Homo sapiens: one gene and its partners. The protein of the gene in region 1 interacts with the protein of each later gene in a pairwise test. Each region holds a gene or a part of one and is shown in the gene's direction. Other genes may lie near its edges.

Region 1 (5,354 bases):
CCAGGCCACACAGTGTGCATGGACACAGGCTATGGTGAATAGTGTGGGGTAATTTATGATGGTGGGTGGGGAAAGCCTGTACTCAGGGTACATGCAAGTTCATGAACCCCTGCCTTATTGATGCATCCAGCTGGTATTGCACTCCTGCAGCCCTCTTGGGTTGGTGGGGGTTGTGGGATTCGGCAGAGCTGAAGGGATGTGGAGATACAAGATCTGTTGGGCCCCAGGGCAGGATGCAGACTTTTAGGGGCTGGGCTCTCAAAATGGCACCATGCTACAGCTGCTCAGGACCTGGTGGGTGTGTGAGACCCAGTGTGGGCTCTTTCTCTGGAGCAATGCCATTATGTGGCATCCTGGCAAATCCCTATGTAAGTCTCAGGGCATGTGAAGAATAAGAGGCTCTCCCATGGCTAGGGTTTCAGGTCCATGCTGAATCCATGGTGGAAATGTAGACAGCTGGGAATCTCTCATTTACCATTTCCCTGGACTGGGGAGTCTCTGTGGGCTCCCGACTGATTCTAGCTGGGCCAGCTGCCTCCCTTCCCTTGCCTTCTGTGCCTCAGATATTTCCTGTCGCTTCTTTGCTGAATTCCAGTTGCTTCTTTGCTGAATTCCAGTGTCTCTCTCAGATGTCCCATTCAAAATGTTGTTACCTCTCACTCTTTTGGGTTCTTTGTGGAAGAGGCAAGTGTCAGGTGCCTCTAGTCAGCCCTCTTGAGCCTGCCCACTTTTTACTGATTGATCAATTATTAATGATTATAACAACCCCCCCACCTATGAACCATGAACCCACTACCTGACACAGAAACTAGAACATCATCAATAATTTACCATGAACTTCTTGGGGCAGCCACTGTTGGGATTATGTGCCCTTTATTCTGTTACTTTCTAGAAAAAATAGAGTTGAGTCATATCTCTTTGTATTCCTGAAATGTGTGTTTTCTAATTTAGTGGTTTTGAATGATATTAAAAGGGAATTATTCTGAGTAATCTTCTGAGACTTATGTCTCCCACTCTGTACAGAGTTGCTAAGGGTCCTCTGCATTTCTTGTGGGTGTATTCTGTATTCAGCGTGCCTCCTTCCTGGGGTTCTGCTGTTTCTACTTCAGGTTAAATGCCCCCCAGTAGATGGGCAGGCCTGTTGTTCCCAAGAGTCTGCTATTACAGATGGTGCTGATATAAACATTTGCAAACCTATTCCACAATTTGTTTGTTAGTGTTCTGGGGGTAGGACCTCTGGGGGTGGGACTGCTGGGGCAAAGGGCATCCGGATGTTCATCCCAACAAGGCACGCCACCTCCTGCGGGTGATCCGTAAGCCGAGGAGGAGAATGGTGGGAATACTGGGATGGCTGTTGCCAGTAGCAATGGAGTGTGCTGGAACCTGATGTCATGGTCTCGGTTTTCAGCCTGGCAGCCTCAGTCCAGGCTCCAGGCTCCTTAGTCCATACTGCAGGCACACAGCTAGCCTCTCTTTAACTGAAAGTACAGCCCTCCAACCCCTCACCCTTGCCCCCTTGATGCTGAGGGGTGGAGGAGGCTCTGTGTTTGTAGCTTTGTGTTTTAGGGGAGAATGCCCAGTGCTTTATTTTTTTATTTAATTTTTTTTGAGATGGAGTCCTGCTCTGTCACAGGCTGGAGTGCAGTGGTGCAATCTCACCTCACTGCAAACTCCACCTCCCGGGTTCAAGTGATTCTCCTGCCTCAGCCTCCCAAGTAGCTGGGACTACAGGCACGTGCCACCACACCCAGCTAATTTTTGTATTTTTAGTAGAGGCGGGGTTGCACCATGTTAGCCAGGATGGTCTCGATCTCTTGACCTCATGATCCAGCCGCCTTGCCCTCCCAAAGTGCTGGGATTACAGGCGTGAGCCACCTGAGTTTGATATTACATATATGTGATGCTGTTTAATGATGTCTCACAGGCTCTTTTCATTTTTCTTAATTCTTTTTCTTCCTCTCCTTCATTTTGGATAATTTCTATTGATGTGCTTCAAGTTCATGAACTCTTCTTCAATCTCATTCTATATTTACGTCTATCATGTGGATTTTAAAATATCAGCTATTGTACATTTTAGTTCTAGCATTCCCATTTAAAAAATAGTTTCAATTTCCCTACTGAGATTCTCTATCTTTGATCTTGAGTTAATTTTGTATATGGTGTGAGGTAAGGGTTAAAAATAATCTTTTGTGTGTGGATATCCTGTTTTCCCACTGCCATTTGTTAAAAAGTCTGTTCTTCCCTCACTGAAAGGTCTTGACAGCCTTGCCGAAAATTATTTGACTGTAGTTGTGAGAGTTTATTTCTGGGCTCTCTATGCTATTCCATTAGTCTATATATTGGTCTTTATGCCAGTACCACAGTTTTGATTAGTGTAGCTTTGTAGTAAGTTTTGAAATCAGAAAGTGTGACTCCTCCAGCTCTATTCTTTTCTTAAGATTGATTTGGCTATTTAGGGTCCCTTGAGACTCCACATAAACTTTAGGATGGGTTTTTCTATTTCTGCAAGAAATGTCCTTGGGATTTTGACAGGGATTGCATTGAATCTGTAGATTGCTTTGGTTAGTATGGACATATTAACAATATTAATTTCCAATTCATGAACATGGGATGTGTTTCCATTTATTTCTGTTGCCTTTAATTTCTTTCAACGTTTTGTAGTTTTTGTTACACAATTATTTTAATTCTTTGGTTAACTCCTGAGTATTTTGTTCTTTTTAATGTATTGTAAATGGAATTGTTATTGTACTTTCCTTTTGAGATTATGCTTGTTAGTTTATGGAAATAGAACTGATTTTTGTGTTTTGCTTTTGTATCCTGCTACTTTGCTGAATTCATTTATTCTAAAATTTTTGTGTGTGGAATATTTAGAGTTTTCTACATATAAAAATCATGTCATCTGTGAACACAGCTAACTTTACTTCTTGCTTTTCAATTTGGATGCTTTTTGTTTCTTTCTTTCTTCCTTTTAAAAACAATTGCCTAGTTGCTCTTAGTAAAACTTCTAGTACTATGCTGGCTTTGTTCCCAATATTAGAGAAAAAGCCTTCAGTTTTTCACCAGTGGGTATGAGGCTTGCTGTGGGTCTTTCATGTATGGCTTGTATTGTGTTGAGGTAGTTTTCTTCTATTCTTAGTTTGTTGATTGTTGTCATCATGAAAGAATCTTGAATTTTGTGAAATGCCTTTTCTATATCAATTGAGATGATCACGTGGTTTTTTCCTTCATTCTGTTATCATGATGCCAAGTTCCAAGTGATCTGGTGTTGACATCTGTAGGCTCAGAGATTCTACTGTCCCTGCAGTACAGGGTGCACATGGCTTTCTGCTGAACATACCCAGAAGTCATTCTGGCCCTTGGAACCTTCTATATTCAGCTCACACATATCCTGCTGTGGCTGTCCATGGGACCCTTCACTGGCCTCACATGCTTCCCTGGGAACATGCTTGGACCAGCTTGATTTCCTTAGAGCTGTGTCTCCATGCATGAGGGCCAGTGGTGTTGTCTCATCTTGGTTCTTAACTAGGAGGATTTCTCAAGACAAAGATCCATGGTCACCACTCACAAGAAGTTCTCTGTGACCCACACCCTTTGTCCCCACTCATCCTATGGACAAGTGATTTCCATGTTCTTCCTCCATCTGCTAGCTCTCATCCAGCTCTAAGCTCTCAGGACACCCACAGATCAGCTAGACACGTCCTGTTCTACCTCACATTGACTGTGGAGCCTTCCTGAGCCATGAGAGGAGTGTAAACTTCTGTGGTTTAAGGACCATCATCACACAGAGAGGAAAAAAATCTGGAGATCTGAGTTTTTGGAATCTCACAAAAGTAACTCAGGTAAAATTTTAAAGAACAAGGAAGAATCTTGATGAAGCCAGTAAAACACTCTGGCAGGTTTCCAAGCATACCAAGAGTTCGAAGAAGGTGCAATTAGTCATGAAGCTAAGGGCCAAACAAAACCCAGAGACACCTACAACAGAAAATTAAGCTCCAGGAGACAGCACTGAGGAAGAAAAACAAGGAAGACAGGTGTGCTTCTGTGCTGTGGGGATGCCTGGGCCCAGGTATAAAGGCTGCCCAGGGAGGCCGTCCCCAGACATCACTGCCCTCTGCCTCGACCTTATCCAGCCACACGCCACCATGTGTCATACCAGCTGCTCCTCGGGCTGCCAGCCAGCCTGCTGCGCGCCCAGCCCCTGCCAGCCAGCCTGTTGTGTGCCCAGCTCCTGCCAGGCATCCTGCTGTGTGCCTGTGGGCTGCCAGTCCTCCGTGTGTGTGCCCGTGAGCTTCAAGCCAGCCGTGTGCCTGCCCGTGAGCTGCCAGTCTTCTGTGTGTGTGCCCATGAGCTTCAAGTCAGCTGTGTGCGTGCCCGTGAGCTGCCAGTCTTCTGTGTGTGTGCCTGTGAGCTGCAGGCCCATTGTGTGTGCAGCCCCCTCCTGCCAGTCCTCCCTGTGCGTGCCTGTGAGCTGCAGGCCTGTCGTGTATGCGGCTCCGTCCTGCCAGTCCTCTGGGTGCTGCCAGCCCTCCTGCACCAGCGTCCTCTGCAGACCCATCTCCTACAGTATCTCTTCCTGCTGCTGAGCATGAATCTCCAGACCCGCTGCTCCCAGTGCAGATGAGGCCACACCTGTACACTCCCTGGATGAGTCCTCAGTTGGTCTTCTGCACATGGTGCAGGTGAAAAGCATGCTCAGTTGAACCCTCTGAATTCTGGATTGAGAATGTGACAGAATGATCTGGAGCCCTTGCTGACCTTGCCCATCCCCCCAGGGAAGTCTGGGGTCCCAGAGTCATTCTCTGACCCCATGAGAGCCAAATAAACCAGCTTTCCCCATGCAGCTCTGCATTTCTGGTCTTTCTTTTTTATTTCCATACTCCCTGCTATCTATTCTGCTGATTACATAGAATTTGCTGCTAAACCCTCTTCAGTGATCCCTTCACCCAGTGCTCATCAGAAGGTGGTGTCCCGGGTGGAGGGCGCAGCTGCAGATGCCCATGTGGTCTCTCCCAGGGCTCCTGGGGCCCAGGTGCAGTGGCCACAGAAGTGACTTACCCGCCTGTGGTAGAGTGGTCTCGCTTCCCCACTGGCTGTCCACTCCTGCTCCAGGCCAACAAGCCCTGCACTGATGGCCAAAGCCTCAGAGCATTGACAATTGGGTTTTCTGATGTGGTTGGTGGACGTCCTGTTTCCCAGGTCGCGGAGGATCTCAAGTTTACAGAACTGGATTAGTTCTGCGGCACACACTCCCATCACTGGTCCACAAAGGCTTGGTTTTTATTGATTGACTGATGATCAATTACTGAGGATCCTAATATAATAAACCCGCATGAACCCACTGCCTGACATAGAAA
Region 2 (7,138 bases), on another chromosome or scaffold:
AAAGAATTCTATACCTCAGGATTTCAAAAAGTTAGCAACTTGAGAGGCCAGTGCTGAGCAACCCAGTACCCAGGAAATGAAAAAAAGAAAGAAAATTCCCTCCGAGAATGAACAAATCATTGGCTTCATTGCCTCATGAGCTTGAGAGAAAGGAGAAGAGAGCCAGAGTGTGGCAAGTGAGGCCAAAATCAGAAGCATGGCAGAAATGAGTGTAAGTGATTGAGCCACAGACAGAAGTGTGGCGAGGGACAATGCCATATTGGGAGAAGGTAAAGTTGAGTAACAAGAAACCAACCGTGTGTGAGAGGGGGATTGGAAAAAAATTTGAGGGAGAAGAATGTTAGAATGGAAGGGAATGATGGTGGAAGGGAGGTGTGAGGGTGTGTGCTGAGTGTTGAAAGAACGGTTGGTGTCTGTGTGATTTTCCTTGAGTCTGTTCTTCAGTGTGTCTTCTGCAGCTTGCCATGACTGCCTGGGAAAGAGTAGGGAAATACCCAGAGCCAAAACCTCCTTTCAGTCCCACCCCATCCCTCAAAACCCCAGCTATTGCTTCTTTTCAGCTTCAGGTCCTGATCTCCAATCTTAGTATGGACTCCCTTCTCACCAAGACCACCACCAGCTACGTTTGCTGTGTAATCTGGAAAGTGATAATTTCCTTTGCTTGTTGGGTGTGAGTCACAATACTTTGGTTTGTGCACAAGAATAAATTTATGCCCCATACCTTCTGTTGCTGTTATCTTCTAGTTTTATTCCTAAATCCTGATCTCTCCTTAATCTTCTTTAACCCATTCCCCTGATCTGATTTCTGATCTGTCTCTTTTCCTGCCCTCCCATTTTTCATCCTTTTGCCCTTTGTTCCCAGGTCTTTTGCTCTTTTATACAAATTCTGTCCTGCTTTGATTTAGCCACCTCCATCACTCTTCTTGGTTCCCTCTCCCCACAGTCTTCATCCAAGTTCTCCCCTTTCCCTCCCTTGCCTCATACTTTCTAGGTAAGGCTTCAGTTCACAGAACTCAGAGAAGTTGGAAAGGCCCTCTGAGCCCTTTGCTATCAACATTTCCTCGCTCCTTAGAGGAAGCAACCATATTAAACAGTCTCTGGGAAGTAAATGAAGAGAAAGCAATGGCTGGAGGGCTGGAGGGGAAGGTGGGATGGGAGAGGGAAGAATAAAGCTGAATTGAGACTACTAAAGAAGGGAGGGCGTTGGAGGTAGGTGAGAATTAGACTTCAGAGAAGGAAAGTGCCATTGCTCTGATTCTGCCAGCAGAGGGCACATTTGTGCCAATAATCAGACCCAGGCCGCAGACTCTTCCAAGTGCACTGTCTTAGAATTCCAAAAAAAGATCTCAGAGACCATAGGTTAAATAGCCTGTCTTCACCCACTCAGTCGTTTTGGGTACTCAGTTGAAGGAGATCAAACTTTCAGTTTGTTTTTGTTTTTGAGGGTGAGGGTGGTAGTGATGATGAAGTCACCTTTAGCTATTTATAGTTCTTCTTTTTTTTTGAGATGGAGTCTCCCTCTGTGGCTCAGGCTGGAGTGCAGTGGTGCGATCTCAGCTCACTGCAACCTCTGCCTCCTGGGTTCAAGTGATTCTCCTGCCTCAGCCTCCCAAGTAGCTGGGATTACAGGCACGCACCGCCATGCCTGACTAGTTTTTGTATTTTTAGTAGAGACTGGGTTTCACCATGTTGGCCAGGCTGGTCTTGAACTCCTGACCTCAAGTGATCCACCCACCTCGGCCTCCCAAAGTGCTGTGATTACAGGCATGAGCCACCACGCCCGGCCTATTTTATCTTCTAATTGCTTCCTTGGGTTGGGAGGGGATGGAGGAGGACAAAAGATGAGGGGTCTGGAGGCATAACTAGCCTGGGCAGAAGCCAACTGTGAGGGGATACCTTTTAGGGTCTCCACAGGATGGAAAAAGGACATGGTCAGGAAGAGTAAAGAGCTCAGAAGGGGACAAAGGAAGTTACAAAAGCCACTTCCTGGTGCGTGCCTGTAGTCCCAGCTACTCAGAGGCTGAGGTAGGAGGATCACTTGTGCCCAGGTGTTCAAGTCCAGCCTGGGCAACATAGTGAGACCCCCATCTCTAAAATAAAGAAAGAAATAATTTTTTAAAAAGCCAGCTAGGCACAGTGGCTCACGCCTATAATCCTAGCACTTTGGGAGGCTAAGACAGGAGGATTGCTTGAGCCCAGGTGTTTGAGACCAGCCTGGGAAACATAGTGAAACCCTGTCTCTACAAAACATATGAAAATTAGCTGGGCGTGGTGGCATGTACCAGCAGCCCTAGCTACCTGGGAGGCTGAGGTCGAAGGATTACCTGAGCCTGGGGAGGCTGAGGTTGCAGTGAGCCAAAATTGTGCCACTGCACTTCAGCACAGGCAACAGAGTGAGACCCTGTCTCAAATAAATAAATAAATAAATAAAGCCACTTCCTCAGGTAGCAGCAACAGGGTTGTGGTGGCTGCAGCAGAAGTGCTGCAGCAACTGGTTCCAGAATCTAAGCAGAAGGTGGAGGAAGATCATGCAGCTACTGAAGAAGGGCCTGGGGAAATGATAGGCTTTCCCCAAAGGGGCTTTCAAGCCTGTGGCCCTGCCCAGAGACTCCGCTGGAACAGTACAAATGGCACAGTCCAGATCCTATGTGGTATGTGCTCCCTTTGCAGGAAATCTCAAGTAGAAACCTCAGAGAGCCTGTAATCCCAGCACTTCGGGAGGCTGAGATGGATGGATCACGAGGTCAGGAGATCGAGACTATCCTGGCTAACACGGTGAAACCCCATCTCTACTAAAAATACAAAAAAAAATTTAGCCGGGCGTGTTGGTGGGCGCCTGTAGTCCCAGCTACTCGGGAGGCTGAGGCAGGAGAATGGCGTGAACCTGGGAGGTGGAGCTTGCAGTGAGCCGAGATTGCGCCACTGCACTCCAGCCTGGGCAACAGAGCGAGACTCCGTCTCAAAAAAAAAAAAAAAAAAGAAGAAGAAAAGAAACCTCAGAGAGCCTATATGTGCTTCTCAGGGAGACATCGATGTCTATCCCGCACAGCAGGTTGAACTGAGCATCTCAACAGCAAATGGAGGTTAAAAGGCAGATCCTGGCTGGGCGTGGTGGCTAGAGAATAACTCCTTAGAGACCAGATCCTGGCGGTGGCTCACGCCTGTAATTCCAACATTTTGCGAGGCCAATGTGGGTGGATCACCTGAGGTCAGGAGTTTGAGACCAGCCTGGCCAACGTGGTGAAACCCCGTCTCTACTAAAAATACAACAATTAGCCGGGCATGGTGGTGGACACCTGTAATCCCAGCTACTCAGTAGGCTGAGGCAGGAGAATTGCTTGAACCCAGGAGGTGGAGGTTGCAGTGAGCCGAGATCGCACCACTGCACTCCAGCCTGGGCAAAAAGAGCGAAACTCCATCTCAAAAAAAAAAAAAAAAAAATGCAGATCCAAGTGTTTGTCTTTTATTAAAACTGCCAGAGCTCAAGAGGAAAGAATAGGGAGTGAGGCAGACAGAATAATTGTCAAGTCTTCCCCACATCATTCCTTTGTAGGAGGTACTGGGTTTAGTTAATTTGGTCCCTTAACCTGCCAAGATCTAGCCCTTACCGAGAAAAGACCAACCTATCCAGGAACTTTAAAAGAGCAGTTCCACTGTGAAGACTTCCCTTTTTGTCCCCAAATATAGCACTTTAAGCCCTCCCTGCTCCAAATACACCCACAGGTCTCTCCACTCTGCCCTGGATTGGCTCTGTGTGGCCCTCAGGGCATGTTCCCCAGACTCTCTCTCTCTGACTGAATTCCTATCCAATACTTGCTGTCTACTTCCTGTCTCCCTCTCAGTCTTCAGTTTCTCCCTAAGTGCTTCTTTGGATCTCAGGCTCTAGGTGCAATGTGAAGGGGAGTCCCTGGGCAGACTGATCCCTGGCTCAGACAGTTCAGTGGGAGAATCCCAAAGGCCTTTTCCCTCCTTCCTGAGCCTCCGGGCAAGGAGGGAGGGATCTTGGTTCCAGGGTCTCAGTACCCCCTGTGCCATTTGAGCTGCTTGCGCTCATCATCTCTATTAATAACCAACTTCCCTCCCCCACTGCCAGTGCTGCCCCCACGCCTGCCCAGCTCGTGTTCTCCGGTCACAGCAGCTCAGTCCTCCAAAGCTGCTGGACCCCAGGGAGAGCTGACCACTGCCCGAGCAGCCGGTAAGTCTCCAGCTCTATCGTTAGAAAGGCTGGAGCCCACTGTGTTGACTTCTGTGTCTGTGTCTACAATTGTGATTCTTGATCCTGGGGGAGTCTCCCCTCTCCTCATCTATGCTCAGCTCCCAGCTGTCCAGTTGGAAGGAGAGGGGAAGGAGAGTTGGAAGGAGAGGGGCCCAGGAGGTTGGGGGGAATGGAGATGTCGGGGGAGGCACTGGAAGAATGGGAAGGGAGACCCCACTAAGTCAGTAGAGTTGCAGATGTATTTTTTGAGACAGGACTTAGAAGAGGACAGCATTTCACTGAGTGCCAACTTCTCTTAAGAAGGGATTGGAGTCCATCTTATCCCAGTTTGTCCCTTTCCATTGCCAGATCCTATTACTATGTTTCTGCCCCACCTCAATTCCCCACTGCTATGATATTGCTGAATTGACGTGTCGGGATTTGAATGCTCCCTACCCTTCCCAGTTCCACACCTGCCTCCACTCTGGGGTCTGTGGCGGGAGTGATTGCAGGAGCAGGGCCATGACTTCCCAGGCCATGTTCCAGCTGGCCTGATGAAGGAGCAACAACCTCTCCTTCCTATGGAGAGTGTTTTTGGCTGAATCTCCTCAACCCTGGCAGAATATTTCTCTGTCCTCCTGGGGACTGGGGGAAGACTGAGGAGAGACCAGAGCCTGGAATCACAGCCCCAGTCTGATATCCCAGTGCAAATAAAAACTTCAAATCATGCCAAGCCAATGAAACCTGGGTGCATTGCCCTGCTTGTGTTATTGTTTTTTAAACACTCCCCACACCTAGCTATGTTCCTAATTCCTGCACTGACTCTATGAAAAACAGCTCACAACAGGTTGGTAGACAACAGGGGCTGGTGTGCATCTATACTTCCTGTCCTGTATCCCAAGAAAAGAGAAGCCCTAAAGCGCAAGTTTTCACCTTTTGGGGAAATACATGCTTCTTTGAAAATCTGGGTCAGGTGAAGTGGCTCACCCCTGTAATCTCAGCACTTTGGGAGGCAGGAGGACTGCTTGAGCCCAGGAGTTTGAGACCAGCCTGGGCAACATGGCAAAACCACATTTCTACAAAAAATACAAAAATTAGCCAGGCACGGTGGTGCGCACCTATAGTCCCAGCTACTTGGGAGGCTGAAGTTGGAGGATCACCTGAGCCCAGGGAGGTTGAGGCTGCAGTGAGGCATGATTGTGCCATTGCACTCCAGCCTGGGCGACAGAGTGAGATCCTGTCTCTAAAAAAGAAAAAAAAATTTTTTTGTCCCCTCAAGCCCTTAAACCCAGGTTAAGAAGTGCTGCTCTCCTACAGACACTCACTCTTCCCAGTCCCTGTCCATCCACCAACTCCTCCTTCCCACCCTGTCCAGGCTGAATCCACCTCCACAATGCCGCTCTCAGGAACCCCGGCCCCTAATAAGAAGAGGAAATCCAGCAAGCTGATCATGGAACTCACTGGAGGTAGGACATGTTTGCATCTCCCTAGTGTGGGACTTCTTAAGAGCATCCCTAAACCAAGAGTCCCAGAAATATATATCTTAGGGTGAACAAACAAGAGAAATTAAGTGGTGGGAAGGCGGGTGATGGGGAGTGGGAGAGGGAAGATTAAGAAGGGTAAGGAGAAAGAGAGAAAAGATTCAACACCTTCTACCCTTTTCACTTCATAATCTGAGACAATACCCTGCCATGTTACCTGCACAGGTCCAGGACCACAGGACCCATGAGTCAGTGAGGTATATTTGAGGAAGAAAATATAATGGAGACTGGCACAGACTCAGGTCTCAATAAGTGGTTAATTTCCCTTACTTCTTTCCCCAGAGCTAGGGAGCTTGTGTAAGTACTTAAAATGGAAAACTGCACAGGCATGTTTCCTGGGGGTGGGCAGGGGTGCATGCATGTGAAGAGCTCTTCAATACCTAGAGACTCTTTGGAGCCAGAGCTCACTGAGGGAAAGAAAAGGGAAAGTAGTTAAGACAGAAGTCTGGGCCAGGTGCAGTGGCTCACGCCTGTAATCCCAGAACTTTGGGAGGCCAAGGCTGGTGGATCGCTTGAACTCAGGGGTTTGAGACTGGCCTAGGCACATGGTAAAACCTCGTCTCTACAAAAAGTACAAAAATTAGCCAGGTGTAGTGGCATGTGCCTAGAGTCCCAGCTACTCCAGAGGCTGAGGTGGGACGATCGCTTGAACCCGGGAGGTGGAGGCTGCCGTGAGCCATGATTGCGACGCTACCCTCCAGCCTGGGTGACAGAGTTCATCCTAAGATATATTTATTTTGTCTCAAAATAAATAATACAAATAGGGCTGGGGCTGTGTCTCATACCTGTAATCGCAGCACTTTGGGAGGCTGAGGTGAGAGGACCACTTGAGCCCAGGAGTTCAAGACCAGCCTGGACAACATAATGAGACCTCATTTCCATTAAAAAAAAAAAAAAAAAAAAAGTCCAGGCGTGGTGGCTCATGCCTGTAATCCCAGCACTTTGGGAGGCTGAGGTGGGCCAATCATCTGAGGTCAGAAGTTCAAGACCAGCCCGGCCAACATGGTGAAACCCTGTCTCTACAAAAATAGAAAAATTAACTGGGCATGGTGCCGGGTGCCTGTAATCCCGGCTACTTGGGAGACTGAGGGAGGAGAATCACTTGAACCCAGGAGATGGAGGTTGCAGTGAGCTGCAATCGCGCCATTGCACTTCAGCCTGGGAGACAGAGCAAGTCTCTGACTCAATAAATAAATAAATAAATAAATAAATAAATAAATAAATAAATAAAATGTAGGCTGGGCGCCACGGCTCACGCCTGTCATCCCAGCATTTTGGGAGGCCGTGGCTGGTAGGTCAGTTGAGCTCAGGAGTTTGCGACCAGCCTGGCCAACATGGTGAAACCCCATCCCTACCAAAAAATATAAAAATCAGCCAGGGATGGTGGTGCAGGCCTGCAATC
Region 3 (7,964 bases), on another chromosome or scaffold:
CTGGGCTCAAGCCATCCTTCTGCCTTGGACTCCCAAAGTGTTGGGATTACAGGTGTGGGCCACTGTGTCCTTCCTTAACATAATAAAATTGAGATAATCACATTCATAAAAGGGCAAAACTATGTCAACAAGCCCACTGTATTAGTCTGTCTTCACAGTGCTGTAAAGAACTGCCCAAGACTGGGTAATTTATAAAGGAAACAGGTTAACTGACTCACAGTTTAGCATGGCTGGGAAGGCCTCAGGAAATTTAACAATCATGGCAGAAGGCAAAGGGGAAGCAAGGTACCTTCTTCATAAGGCAGCATGAAGGAAAATTAATGCAGGAGGAACTACCAAACACATAAAACCATCAGATCTCGTGAACTCGCTCATTATCAGGAGAACAGCATGGGAGAAACCGCCCCCATGATTCAATTACCTCCACCTGGTCTCTCCCTTGACACATGGGGATTACAATTCAAAATAAGATATTGGGTGGGGACACAGGCAAACTATATCGCCCATATTACAATTACTTACATTACTGATTCCCTTAATTAGAGCAGAGGTAATTAATTGGGTCTAGGCTCAGTGGAAGGGTCTGGCTGGTTCTTAATTCTCAGAGCTAGTTTGAATCTTGAGGTTAACGTCTTGCCTTCTAGAACTTGTCCTGTGTTTGGCTGAACTCTGTGAACCTTTCAGAAAGTAGGTCTTTATTGAGCACATACTCTATGCAAGGCAAAGAACCAACTACTGTGGAGTTTACAAACATGAATAAGGGGTAAGAAATGACTCTTGTCACATGGTTTACAGTCCAGCTGTGTGGGCCACCACAGTTCATATCTTTCAGGCTGGGGACTGGATGAGAGGAAAGTGGACTCAAAATTAATCCCAGTGCTCTCTACTTTCCCATATCCCTGTGCTTTATCTCTGTTGTAGTTATGTTATTTGTATGTTGGCCTGCCTCACTGCTCTGTGATCTCCAAAGAACAGGGACTAGGTTTTATTTATTTCTGCATTGCCGCAGAGCCTAGTATGTGCTTTATAGAGAACAGGCTCTCAAAAAAATTTTAAATTAAAAGAATGTATTCACTTGTTTATGTTTCCTAGTTACAGTGGGCCAGCTTGTTCTGTGCTAATATGGAAGTGACAAGAAACTGGTGTCCCTCTACGCAGAGGTCCCCACACTAAATATCATCTTGGATGTGCTTCACATTGTTGCACAAAGGTACAGTGGAGTGAGACTGAGTAAGAGGACAGAAATAGTGGGGGGTTTGTCTCAGCTCACTAATTACTTATTTAACCTTGGGCAAGATACTTAAAGCTCTATCTCAGTTTCTTCATCTGCAAAATGGGGATAATAATGACTGGGGTGCCTATTTCCCACGATTGTTTTGAGGATCAAATGAGATAATATAATTAAAAGTGTTTTTGGAAGGTCTAAATCACTGTGCAACTGCAAGGCATTATTAAAAGAAATCTTCCTTTTAATTCCTGCTTCCACAAACATCTCATCACATATCCTTGGGTTCCTGGGTTACATGGAGAGATTCGTGGTGTAGCTCAATCTATGTGTCATAGCTATCCCACAATCTCTTCTTCAACTTCTCCAACACACCAAGACATTCTTCCAGTCTTGCACTGCTCCCCAGTTTATATAGATATATATGTTCCTCATTCAGCATTTATGTAAAACATATATTATTGAGCACTTATGTGATAGAAACCGGGGCAAAACAGAAAATAAAACAGAGTTTTATTTTGAGAGTTTTTTACAGCTTGTCGGCTCTGAGAGGACAGACATGAGAACAAATAAGTGCCCAATTCTGCATTTATTTTGGAAGGCAGTTTTATGTGAGTTTAAATCAGTAAAGACATAGATGTATATTTTTAGTTTTGATTAAAACTAAAACAATTGGTAGCCCTTACTCATATTTTTCTATCATTAAAACTTATCTTTAAAAAATGTCTTCAGTCATATTTTTCCCTTACTTCCATTCATATTTACTCTTTACTTCTCTTGTCCTTACCAGAATGTATGCAGTAAGTTTTCATATTGTAACACATTCAACAAAAGTTATATGTGAACATAATAGCTGCTTTCTTTAAAACGGTTACTTTGAGAAACTGCATACCTATTTTTTTTTTTTTTTTTTTGAGACGGAGTTTCACTCTTGTTGTCCAGGCTGGAGTACAGTGGCACGATCTTGGCTCACTGCAATCTCTGCCTCCTGGGTTCAAGTGATTCTACTGCCTCAGTCTCCTGAGTAGCTGGGATTACAGGTGCTCGCCACCATGCCCGGCTAATTTTTGGTATTTTTAGTAGAGACGGGTTTTCAACATGTTGGCCAGGCTGGTCTCGAACTCCTGACCTCAGGTGATCTGCCCACCTCAGCTTCCCAAAGTGCTGGGATTATGACATAAGCCGCCACGCCTGGCCTGCACATTTATTTTAATAATGTTGTCATAGCTACAGTCGCTTCTAGAGTTGCTCTTTGGGGATAACTATCTTATATTCTTCTGAATATATTTTAATAGTGACAAAACTTATCTTTGCAGGTGATTTTTAAAATTTGTATGCAGCCAAGTCACTATGAATTATCTTTAGTGAGTAAAGAGGAAGATCGAACTGGTAACACTGTGGGTAAACAACTGAAAAATAATGTTATCTTTCTCTGAACATACTTGCACAAGACAAATTCCAAAAATATTTTGACTACGTTATTTTTGAAAAGGGTTTCCAGTATTTCAATGTGACTACTTTCACTAATGATACTTGCTTACCTAAAGTGCTTGTTAACATGCAGTTTTGGAACTTCATAGGTCTATGCCCATACTGACTTGTACTTGCTTAGTGTTGTTTTACATTCTAGTTCAACATCTATTATGTGATAGACACTGGGGATTAATAGGCTGTGGTCTTTGCCCATGAGGACCTCAAAACTTAGTTGAGAACACAGAAATACAAAGAGTCCTGTGTGAAAAATAAGTATCGGTGTTAAGATAAAGAAGCGGCAGTGGAAGACAGTGGAGGGACTGTCTGTTAGAGGGAGGAATTTATTGTGGTGTCGGCAAAGCCTTCTTTGGACTGAAGGATGAATTATGATTAGAAGTTCATTAAGAGGAGGAGGGAAGGGGACTACAGGAGTCATTCCAAGCCAAAGGAACAAAAGATACAGGGACAGAAACAGCAAGATATGTTTGGGGGAATCTCAAGTAATACTGTTATTGTGTGAAGTTCACAACAGGGGCAGGGAGGACAGGAGATGGGGCCCAATGACGAAAAGGCCTTGTATGTACCATGTTTAGAAGTTTGAATTTTATCCTATAGGAGTCAGGGAGAGGTTCTATGGGTAGGATTTCTCATCCCAACAGGATTGTAAACTCCCACATCCAATTAGTCACACCTCCATTTTTTTTTTCTGTTTCTTTAACATTGTCTCAGATTCATTCCTTCTGAAATCTACCTTATTAGTTCAGGTCTTCTTAAATTTGTGCCTGGACTGTTCACCAACTCTTGACTGGTCCTGGGGCTCCAGTTCACCTCTTGCTCCCAACAATCAATTTTCTACAGAATTATCAGAGCAATCTTCCTTTCCATCAATCTCAACTCTGTTCAAAAACTTTCAATAGTTTTATGTGACCTAAGAGGTAGCTGCCTCCCCACCCTTTCAGCTTGCCATTCAAGGCTGCATAATTTGGTCCCAACCCCCTTTCCGTCCTTGACTCCTCTCACTGCTAACAGAGACAGAACTCATTTACTTACTCTTCTGACTGTACCTTTGCTTTCACGAGGGCTCTTTCCCGGAATGATATGTCCATACAACTATTGTTGTTGTTCTTACTTTTAGCTCTTTTCTTAGAAGCCCACTTGTACCCAGGTTTGATCACACCCCCTACTCTCCTGCCCTGGAAGTAACTACTATTCTGGTTATAGTCTCTTAATATCTATATCTATATATATGCATCCACAGATAATGTGTAGTATTGTCTTGAAAAAAATATACATAAATGGTATACTTTGTCTCCCTCTGCGATTATTTTCACTGTCATTTAGTTTTTAAGATTTATCCCTATTGACATAAATAGCTATAGTCTTTTCAATTACTGTGTTGCATTTCATTTTATAAATATACCATACATTATTCATCCATTCCTCTAAGGGTGGGCATTTATGTTGTTTTCAAGGTTTTGCTATTACAGTGTTACAACGAATATCCTTAGCTTAGCTGGTCTCCTTGTCTTATACAAATTTTACTGACCTTTCAAGATCCTGCTTTCATCCCAGCTCCTCTGGGAAAGCCTTCCCTGAATCCCCCAGCCCACAGCGGCAAAGTCTTGGTACTCAAAGTTGCTTGTGCATCTTTGGTATCATCCCACTGCCAAGCACACAGCTACGCAAAGTAAGGCACTTAAGAAATATTCGCTACACGGATGAACAAATGAATGAATGAATGGGGCAGCACCACTCCGTGATGGCTCTATTCCTTTTTAATGGACTTTGGCGCCTTGGCCCACTTTCCTTCTTTGACAGCACTGGTCCTACTCCAGAGCATTCCTCTAGCTAGCAAAGCAGTGTGTGGATGTGTGGGTGTAGGTGGCGATACAGACCTCACTGGATGAGGACCGCCTCTCCCTGCAAGTTCACGATCCCGGCAAACTCCAGTGCTTGAAGTTCAGAGTCCTACCCCACCCCGCTCACCTCCACGCCCCTTCTGCACTGGTCAAGCCAGCGAGCCGCTGCAGCCCTGATCGAGTTAAGGCGCGGCGGCCCCCGGGGCCGCTGGAGAAGGATGCGGACGGGGCCAGTGACTCGTAGTAGATCCCTCCGCGCGGAGCTCGGGCCGGCGCTTCTTCCTGCGGGAAACCCCTGGGTGCCCAAGGCGGCGGGGCCGAGGCCGCGGCGACAGTGGGGCGGGGCTTGCGGTGGGAGGAGGCGGCTGAGGCGGAAGGACACACGAGGCTGCTTCGCTGCACACCCGAGAAAGTTTCAGCCAAACTTCGGGCGGCGGCTGAGGCGGCGGCCGAGGAGCGGCGGACTCGGGGCGCGGGGAGTCGAGGCATTTGCGCTGGGCTTCGGAGCGTAGCGCCAGGGCCTGAGCCTTTGAAGCAGGAGGAGGGGAGGAGAGAGTGGGGCTCCTCTATCGGGACCCCCTCCCCATGTGGATCTGCCCAGGCGGCCGCGGCGGCGGCGGCGGAGGAGGCGACCGAGAAGATACCCGCCCTGCGCCCCGCTCTGCTGTGGGCGCTGCTGGCGCTCTGGCTGTGCTGCGCGACCCCCGCGCATGGTGAGTATCGGGCTGAGGGGCGCTGTCCGCGGCGCCCGGGGCTGCCACCTGGGGCGACCCTTCTCCCCCTCGGTCCTTCTCTGTGTGGGAAGGCCAGGCTCGGCCGCCGGCGCGGAGCGAGGCCACTCGCTGGGTTCCCGAGAGTTTGGACATCGCCGGGGGCCCCTCCCGTGGTGCCCCGCCAACCGCCGGGGTTCCCCGCCAACCGCCGGGGTTCCCCGCCGCCTCTGCTCCCCGCGGCCCGGGACCCCTCACACGCCTCCTCGGCAGGAGGGAGGCCGGCAGCAAGTCTCAGAAACTCCTTTTTCGTAGTGCCAGGGTGCAGGGAGGTGGGCAGTTTTGCCCTTCAGGTTCCGCGTTTCCTGGGGTCGAGCGAGAGCCGACGGCGGGCCTCGGAGGGGCTGAGCGAAGGAATGCCAGATTCTGGCGTGGAGAGCGGGGGCAGGGCCGCCAAGCCAAACGGCCTGCACCTTCGCAGCCAGCCTCGCCTTTGCCAGGGGGCGGCACATGGGCCGGGTGTGTGGGCTTGGTTTGGATGGGGACGGGGTTTTGCGGCGCGCCTGAGTTTTGACACTCCAACCCCACCGAAAGTCCGGAGGAGCCGGGTGTGCTGCTCGCGTCTTTGAAAGGTGGAGGCAGGAGAAGTAGGGCAACTGGTGTGGCTGCATGCTGAGGCACATGATTTAAAAATCTCAACTGCTGTTATTCTTTCTGAGGCGCGGAGCTCTGCTGCTGTTTCAGGCTGTGTCCAGACCCAGGAATGTGGTGTGACGATCACCAATTCCTCCAACCTGGCAGCAGCATTTGCTGCTCCTTTGGCATGGCTGGGGGTGGGGCACGGGCGGGTGAGAAAAAGTGGATACGTCAATTCAAAGGGCTTCCTTAGAAAGCTTCTTTGTGGTTGGATGTTTCTAACACGGTTGGACCAAGGAAAGGGAATCAAATCATATCTTCCCCATCCCACCCACACTTTTAGATTCTACATTTCTTCAGACCCTTTAGTGGAAATAACTTGGGCTTTGGAGCCCTGCTCTGTAATCCTGGATTCAAATCCAGCTCTGCTATATGAACTCACCAATAAAATGGGAATGAAATTATCCAGCTAATAGGATTAATTAAAATAATGTATATTAAACGGATGACACTCCAAAGGTGTTCAGAAAGTCCTTTGAGGGCCGAGGCTGTGTTTTACTGCTTCTGAGATTGATGCTCCCAGTGGGATGGTGTCTTGTGCATATTTGTTGAACGGAAAGCAGCCCCTTCTTTTTCTGAGCCTAATCTGAATAAAGATTTTTACCTTCACCAAAAAACTAGTACATGAACTACATCTGTTTTCAAAGAAAAGGTTAGGAAGATGATGAGCTTCAGAAAAATATGGTCTTTGTTCATTGTTAACAGTCAGTCGACATGTCAATCGCAGATGTTTAAAAAGAGAACAAGGTTATTTATCACCCGAAAATAGTACTGGGTTGTTCAGCACCAACTAGATACTTCTTGGAAAGTTCAAATTTCGTACACGTCTAGGTCACTAAGAATTTCAGAAGTGGACCAGGAGGCTTTGTAGTGATGAAGCAGAGCTGTTGTTTCTGAAGCATTTAATAAAGAGCATATATGATGGTGTTTTTGCTTTTCCTTTTTCTTTGAGTGAAAGCTTTAAGTGTAGCTTTAGGATAGAGAGGAGTATAATCAATGAGACAGTCTGAGGGTAATAATCCTTGGTCTATCATTAACTTGTTTTGGTAAATAACTTAATCTTCATGATATGTAGTCTCCTCACCTATGAAGCAGGACTAAAGGAATAACCTGCTTTAGAGAATTGTAGGGAATAATAAATATGATTGTAAAGTGATTTGAAAAATTAAGTATTAAATAATATGTCAGAAATGGGATTACTCTGACACATAGGGCTTCTTTTATTATAGGATCTCAGTGCGTAAAACTATGCCCTCCACCTCTGCTCTGCTGAGGTGCTGCGATTATTAGCTAGCTTTTAGGTAGTCAAGTTGAGTGTTAGTCAAGTTGACTCAAAGGATAGGATTTAGATATTTTGATTTTTAGACAGGTGTTCTTTAGATGCTAAACTAATGCAGTAGAAGAGATTTAGAAGCCTGTTTCTTGGTACAAATCTTAAATCTTCTTAGAGTCTACAGTGAAGGCTTCTTGAATCCTCCTAATTTATTATTGTGTTTTGCTAAGGTACCAATTACAGCACACCCTTCTAAACTTTTGAGTGTTCCTGTGTTTGGCTTGTGGCCAATTGTTAATTTAAACATCACGGAGTTTCTAAGGCAAGGAGATGTTAGCAGTATGTCTGATTGTCTAAACAGCTATCCAGGACCATACTCTTGCTCCTTGTTTTCTTTTGCTTTGCAATGGGAAGTGACTCCCTGATTTTGCTGCCTGCTAGATAATTTCTCAGCTGAATTCTTCTCTTGCTTAAACAAAATCGGAGTAATTTTCTTTCAGATGGTGATGAAATTTAACCTAAAACTATTTTTCCTTTCACTTTCTTATTATTCCTTTTTTTTTGGTGTGGTGGAGAGGAGGAGGAGAGTGATTCCTAGTCTCTCTTATTTTTCTGAATGTTTAGATTTAAAAAATATTTACCCATAACTTCTTGGGATCTCTCTGCTCCATTCCCACCCTACTGCCTCTCCTGTAGGCTTCTATGACATAGAGAAGCAACTTTTGGTT

The links. The genes of interacting proteins can lie anywhere in the genome.
Region 2: the proteins of KRTAP12-2 (region 1) and MYOZ1 interact in binary tests that used the Homo sapiens proteins (3 or more experiments, as listed by UniProt).
Region 3: the proteins of KRTAP12-2 (region 1) and NOTCH2NLA interact in binary tests that used the Homo sapiens proteins (3 or more experiments, as listed by UniProt).

The regions. Positions count from the first base shown.
Region 1 is NC_000021.9:44,665,675-44,671,028, reverse strand, and holds KRTAP12-2 (keratin-associated protein 12-2), read left to right. Parts: upstream 1-4,101; 5' UTR 4,102-4,142; coding exon 4,143-4,583; 3' UTR 4,584-4,840; downstream 4,841-5,354. UniProt on the Homo sapiens protein: In the hair cortex, hair keratin intermediate filaments are embedded in an interfilamentous matrix, consisting of hair keratin-associated proteins (KRTAP), which are essential for the formation of a rigid and resistant hair shaft through their extensive disulfide bond cross-linking with abundant cysteine residues of hair keratins.
Region 2 is NC_000010.11:73,638,468-73,645,605, reverse strand, and holds the start of MYOZ1 (myozenin-1), read left to right. Parts: upstream 1-4,131; 5' UTR 4,132-4,195; intron 4,196-5,570; 5' UTR 5,571-5,588; coding exon 5,589-5,661; intron 5,662-7,138. UniProt on the Homo sapiens protein: Myozenins may serve as intracellular binding proteins involved in linking Z-disk proteins such as alpha-actinin, gamma-filamin, TCAP/telethonin, LDB3/ZASP and localizing calcineurin signaling to the sarcomere.
Region 3 is NC_000001.11:146,226,015-146,233,978, reverse strand, and holds the start of NOTCH2NLA (notch homolog 2 N-terminal-like protein A), read left to right. Parts: upstream 1-4,957; 5' UTR 4,958-5,267; coding exon of another isoform or gene 5,268-5,270; intron 5,271-7,964.